Linked DNA regions of Homo sapiens: region 2 is reported to be linked to region 1. Evidence: microRNA targets listed by miRTarBase, many of them from high-throughput screens and not tested one by one. Region 1 holds a microRNA gene; the other region holds the end of a gene's coding sequence.

Region 1 (3,402 bases):
AAAAGAATAAATTTCCTATCATGAGTGCTAATGGATAGTTGTTTCCATGGATACCTGATGTTAGCAAGCAGTTAGGCAAATACGAGTATTTCCCACAGTCTACATGTATCACATCTCTGAAATCACAAACTTCTAGCTACTTAAGAAGACCACAAGATGTTAGAGGAAGAGACTTGAACCATTCTCTCCTATATGCCCTCATTTTATATTCCAGAAACACCCAGGCCCAGGGAGTTCAACAAGCATGTTTCTTTCTTTCCCCAACACTCCTAAACCCCAATATACTTAAGATTAATATGCCTTTATTAGAAATTACTCAATCAAATCAGCTTATTTAATGATCACTATTTTTAACATTTATCTTTCAAGGTAACCCTGAGTAAGAACTATCAGTCACGTAGGAATCACAAACTAAAGAACTGGCTCTAGGTGAACAATTATGCTAGACTGAACATAATTTAATCACTCTCGTGAACTGCAGCATACTTAGGAGTTTGGCAGGGTGCCTCAAAGTTCTGATCCCAAGTCTCAACTGTCACTGTGTTGAAGGCTGCAGAAGTTCTGGTGAATGGAGGTTCTCTGGTTGACAGAATATGAGTGAGCTGAACTCCACTGTAGCAGAGATGGTTATTAGATACCTCCCAAGGAAAACACTGTCATTTTGAAAAGTCAAATAGCCATTTATTTTAGGAAGATTAGTGAGCCCAAGCAAAAGACTACCTGATTCCTTAGGAAGGAAATTTTACTCCCAGCATAACATTTTTAAAAATAAATATATAATGCTCTCTTGTTTACATAGATGATTCTGATTCTACCAGCGTGACTGTGGGATTGAAGGCATGTTGGTCCCTCCTCACCGAAATCACAACCACCCTGTGTCTGAGAGCCATTAGGTGCCAGGGACTAGCCAGGGAAAGGGACAATCCATGAAGAGAATAGAGATTTCCAGCCTACGTGTAGATCAAGACCCTAGCCCTGGCCTCAGGACTACATAGGTCATTCAAATTTCTACTCAGGTGAGAGGAACAATCTGGGCTCTACACACTTTTTTCATCGGGCAAGAGTAGAATGCATGTCCAAACTCTCTTCTGTGACCGGTGAGCTGGGCAGAAGGCAGGCCCAGCCAGTCGGTCCCTCGGGCCAGGGCAGGAAGCGAGAGTCTCTCTTACCCTGGTGCGTGGGGCCGCAGGGCTAACACCAACAATTCATCCGATGGAGCATGTCGAGGTCGAGCCAGAAGACTTGTCCAAGCAGGTTCCTGAGCAACAGTTGCTCTAGGCAAGTACTGATAGCAAGGTGCAGAGAAAATGGGGGTCTGAGAACCAGGTAATATGAGGGCAAGGCCCGGGGGGAGAGAAGAGGAGTGGAAAAAATGGGCTTTGGAATCAGACACATCTGGGCCCAAATATAGTATCAGCCCAGTCACTATATAGCTGTGTGGCTATGAGCAAGACATTGAACCTTGCTAAGCCTCATTTTCATAACTTGTAATATCAGGATAATAGGATGCTTCCCATATGGGTGTCAGGAGGCTTAAATGATATGAAGCACTTAGCACAATGCTTGATAAATAGTAAACACTAAATGTTATCTGATTAACACTAGTGTCATTATTAGCTTCTAAGGCAGGTGCTAAAAAACAGATTCCCAATGAAAGGTAGAAAAGGATACTATGAACCTGTGAGGGAGGGTAAGTACCACTAATTCTAGGGGTGATTATGGGGCTTTTTCAGGACCCCAGGGTGCTTGTCAGGGTGTGGACCAAGGTGGAAGGGGGCAGTGCCCATCCAGGGGCCTGGGCCAAATGAGAGGTCATCCCATCCACCCTGTCAACAGCTTCTTCAAATACCATCTACTGAAAGCAGGACAGCCCAACTCAGGAGCAAGCCACCCACTTCCAGCCCAAATGGCGTTTCAGTAGCATTTTTAAAGAGCTGAATAGAGATGCCAACTGAACTGGAATGACAGTGAAAAGTGCCAGGTTCAGTACATTTCCAAAAGGTTCATTTGCATCTTCCTGAAACCTCATTTCCTTGCTGCCATCTGTGGAACAGGGTAACGTAGGAGACTTCTGAGTGGCTGGGAGACAGCCTCGGGTTGTCCATGGCAACCCAGCCTCAGGAAAAGTGCTGGGCGGTGAATGTGTGGGAGCCAAGATGATGCTGTTAGCTGTTCCGGCTGGGATGTGTCAGTATGCTCTGTGCATATATGGCTCAGGAAAAACACCTTTATTAGCCTCTGCAGCTATCTCAAGGCAGAGTCCTGTTCCTCTCAGGGAAAGGACTTGGCTGGCAAACAGAGTTACTGCTGAGAATTACTGAATATAGTGCAGGTCTCTCTCCACCATGTTGTTTTTCAAAGTTTGCTCTGCCAGAAAGCCTATCTGGACTGAATTTATGAAAGCACAAACCAGCCTGCCCTTGGAATTCCTATGCCTGCTTCTCCAACTAGTCCAATTATCTCCTGATTTTTCTTCTTTCTCTACTTATTTGGTTGTTCATATATGTCTATCTTACTTTCTCAGAGAGACTTCTTAAAATTAAAAGTCCCCAAAGGGCAGGAATCAGGTTTCTTTCAACACAGCATTCGGCTATAATGCTTTTGTGACATTTGGAAGCAATATAATAAAACAGTTCAGAGCACAGGGCCTCGGGCCAGTCATCCTAGGCTTAAACCTCAACTCAGCCATTTACTAATTGTGCTTTAAAGATGGGTCACAAATTCTGTGATACTACTACACTCAGACGTGGAACTTAATACCTCTCCCCTTAAGTGTGGGCTAGACTTAGTGACTTGTATCTAGCAAATAAAAGACAGAAGTGATGGGACATGGATTTTGACATTAGGTTATAAAAACACTACAGCTTCTGTGTTAGATGTGTGCTCTCATTTTCTTGCTCTAGAATCACCCTCTCTGGAAGAAAGCCAGCATGTCATGAGGACACTCAAGCAGCTTATGGAGAGGCCCACATGGCAAGAAACAGGCCTGCCAGCAACCACATGAGTGAGCTTAGAATCAGATCCTCCCCAAACAAGCCTGAAATAACTGCACCCCGACCAACAGCTTGACTGTATGAGAGACCCTGGGTCAAAAGGACCCAGCTAAGCCACTCCAGGATTCCTGCCCACAGAAACTGTGAGATGATAGATGTTTATTGTGTTAAGCCATCGTAGGGTAATTTGTAATGCAGAAATAGATAACTAATGCATAATAAGTGGGTGACATAACCCAAGGTCCAACTTCCTCATCTGCAAAATGGGGATAATTACAGTTATGAAAATCCTATGAGATAACAAATATAAGTCACTTAGCCCAGTGGCTGGCACATGATAAGTGCTCAGTAATTGATATCTGCTGTTATCATTATTGTGGGTACTAGTATCATGTAGTGATTAAAAGCC
Region 2 (3,402 bases), not on the chromosome of region 1:
TTGTTCTCTTTTAAGAAAGCAAACAGCCATAGTTGAAAGCAATTAGAAGTGGCATACATGAATGATTTTTTTTTTAATTAAAAAACACAAATCAAGCCAGTGATTGGCTTTGGTTCAAAGCTTGATCCTCCCCTGAAGTCTCCCCTTAGTGAAAGCTCTCGGCCCAGAGCCCTCTCCAGCTAGGTCAGAATTTCGAGTGTAACCAAAACAAGGAACACTCTTTTTTGGTACAAAATATATACATATAAAAATATGCTAACATCTCTAAGGAAGACAGACTGGCCACTGCTTCCTATTCAATACAGGAGCAAACAAAACGCGGTTAACACACCATTTCACACACACACCATTGCCACAGTTCCTGCGGGACCTTCGGGAAAAAAGCAACAATGCATCGTCAGAAGTGCCAGATACCTAGCTACACAAACACAAACACACACACAAATAGCAGCAAATAAAAATAGAAAAAGTCTACTTTTATTTATTGGTAAACATAAGACAACCAAGTCTGAGCATCTGGTGCAGTTCCCAGTGACGGCACTTGCCCTGCACACGCTCTTGAAGCACCAGGAAAAACACACAACACAGTAAGAAGGCAAAGTGGCTGGGAGTAAGGTATCTGCAGATTCAAACTTTGGGATTGAAGTAGCTGGTAAACAGAAAGGCACCGAATCAGGGTCTGGAGAGACCCGGCTGCTGGGGAGGAATCTGGCCTGCCCAGGCAGACAGGGACAGACATCCTCATTTCTCCAACAGCTCCTGGAAGCCGAGTCACCCCAAGGGCTTGGAGAGCTGTTAGTCTGGCTTTGGAGCAGTGAAGGTAGCACAGTGCTCAGCAGGAAGGAGTCAAGACTTTGCTGTCGAGCACAGGGAGGCTGGTGCCTGAGGCTCAGCGTGCCAGGATCCACGCCTCCTCCCAGGCTGCGCAGTGAGCTGGAATCTCTCCCTCTCCTGTGGGAGCAGCTCTTCCCCTTACTGTCTGCTTCCAGCTCTGGCCTAGCTATCTGGGACTCTTAGCCCTTCAATTCGCCGAGGTGGGCACCATTCCTGCTGCAGCCAATATGGCCACTGTGGGCTGGCCCCCAGCTGGCATATGGATGGCCCTCAACGAAGCCATGGACATGGGTCCCTCCCCAAAGGCACACTGTTAAAAAGATCCATTTGGCTACACCAAGGCCACCTCTTCCTATTTGGCACGGTGAGGTACTGGGGGGTCTTGCAGTCTGGTACGCCTGCCCCCCGCAAACCAGAGCCCATTCTCAAAGTCCGGGCTGCTCCATGGAATCAGGAGTGCCTCCCTATAGTCAGGCACTGGAATGTAGCCCCATGCCTGCTGGCGGACTCCATCCAATCAGAGGAACAGAAAGCACCCACCCCACCCTCTTTTATTTTTGGCATCACAAAGACCTAGTGACCAGATTGCCTGCCGCTGCCACCTCTGGGCTGCCCTGCCTTGCTGCCCACGCTGCTCTCAGAACAGAAATCCTGATACTGGTCAGAAGCCATACAAGCTAGCTCCCAGACGTGACCACCTAGAGGCAGCTCACAGTCTTGAGTTAACAGGGGCCTCAGGGCCGAGGCTGACAGATCCAGCTTCCCGGGACCCTCTACCAGGCGGGCCCCCTAGACTTTGTCCAGCTTCCCCAATGGCACAGGTCTAGTTTTTCAGCTGGAAAGGAGCCAAGCAGGGAACCCCTAAAGGTGATGGGGATTGTCAGGGAAAATGATACTCCTCAAGGAATGCCTCATCCACTTGGGCAGGGCCCCACACAGGACGTAGGGAGTTGTTGGCTGGACCCACGGCCAACACTTGCAGCACAGGCAGAGCCGGCAGACGGGCCCATGGACACCCAAGTGCCAGCACTGCTGTCCTCCAGGTCTCCGGGGCAGTCTGTGGGCCATAATTAGAATGAAGCCAGTCCTTTACTAGCAGAAGGTAGGTCCTGGGAGTGAAGGGAGGGGCTTGCCTGCCAAGGGTCCTGCCCACTGGACTCCCCTGGACCTGAGCACCTCCACTTTGGGTTTTCCTTGGGACACACTGAACTCTGGGCTTTTTAGAAATGGAACATGCTTCAGTGGGCCTGGGGCAGGAGGTGGGTCTGGGTTTGGAAGGGGACTCAGGTCAGTTCTCACTGGGACACAGGCAGGAGGGAGGGTGGCAGCCATAGCCTGCCTCTCCTGCTCCGAGGCACGGAGGCTCTTCAGGTGGAACCCAGCTGTGGGACCACCCCCGCCCCACCCACGCTGGCTTGTGGGCTATGGATGCTGCCCTGAACTGGGGCTAGATGGCCATGAAGGCAGCCTTTTAGGGCTGCTGGGCTCGCTCTACTCCAGCTGCCTGCCACTGTCTTTTCACATTAAGGCCCCAGCCAGCCCCCACCTGTCAAGGGCAAGCTCCCCACTTCATCACTGCCGGCTCAGGCAATGCCAGCCAGGACCACCCCTGCCCACCCCATCTCCCAAAAGCTGTGGCCAGATGGAGGGAACACTAGTCCCACTGGCCATGCCTCCCCACAATACTCTCTGCCCACTCCAGGGCTGAAGGCAAGGTGGGCCAGAAGTCCCCTCCTGACACCTCAGCCCCTGCAAGACAGGGACCAAAGCTGTGATTCAGTCACGCAGGCCAGGGAGGAGCAGTTCAAACTCAGCAACAACGCAGCCATGAAGAAGCCCGCTCTGTTCAAGACAGTCACCTGGAGCCACAGGTGCCACCGGGTTTCCTGAGGCAAGAGGGGAGAGCAAAGAGGCCTGCAGAGGTAGGAACAAGGTGGAGACCAACAAGGCAGTGAGGCCCCCTGCCCTATGTCCTGGGACAGAGTGGGGTGCGGGAGAAGTCCCTTCCAAGCCTGCCCATCAAGGAGGCCACCCACTCCTCCTCCCCCGACCCAGACTCTTGAGGGGGCTTGGGCTGGGAGTCACTTAGCCAAGCGACACCATAGGCAGGGAAGGGGAGTAAGACCGCGCAGCTGGTGGCGCCGGGGCTTCAGTAATGCCTCAGGTTGAAGAAGCCCACGCTGGTGGGAGACTCCTTCACTGTGACGGTGATGAGGTTGGCAGTGACGTCGGTGACAAATACGTGCTCGATGAGGCTGCGGGTGGGCTTCCAGTCCTGGCTGGTCTGAACGGACACTGACGGGTTCTGTCCAGTGCTGGGCGGCGAGGCGGAGTCGGGGTCGGAGTCCGAGCTGCTACTCTCCTCACCTGCGCTCATCTCTGGCAGTGTGGCCGCCTTGCGGGCTTCTCCGGGGGCTGTGCGGCTCTCCTGCCCACTGGGGGTAGCACTGCCCTTGACACAGTCCCTCTTGCTGGCAGGGGTGGGTGGCGCCACTGCTCTGGAAGCCAGCTTCTCACTTTTGCTTGTGTCGGTGGGCATGGTGGCCCCGCTGGCCCCAATGAGGCCAC

The links. The annotated mature microRNA hsa-miR-874-3p reads CUGCCCUGGCCCGAGGGACCGA and lies in region 1 at 1,128-1,149, opposite strand. An mRNA with a match to its seed (bases 2 to 7 or 8) in the 3' UTR can be bound and repressed. Matches are read on the target gene's strand: a 7mer-m8 pairs with bases 2 to 8, a 7mer-A1 pairs with bases 2 to 7 and ends in A, and an 8mer does both.
Region 2: the mRNA of CBX2 is a reported target of hsa-miR-874-3p. Seed matches in the 3' UTR shown: 7mer-m8 at 2,267-2,273, 7mer-m8 at 1,445-1,451 and 8mer at 542-549.

Annotation. Positions count from the first base shown.
Region 1 is chr5:137,646,455-137,649,856 of GRCh38, forward strand. It overlaps MIR874 (microRNA 874), which reads right to left and starts at 1,195; the gene lies at 1,118-1,195. The region is part of intron 8 of KLHL3 (kelch like family member 3); the gene reads right to left.
Region 2 is chr17:79,784,624-79,788,025 of GRCh38, reverse strand. It overlaps CBX2 (chromobox 2), which reads right to left. Exons shown (of 5, transcript NM_005189.3): 5 at 43-3,402. The coding sequence ends at 2,984. Among named protein-coding and RNA genes, the nearest start is that of CBX2, 8.2 kb to the right of the region's middle.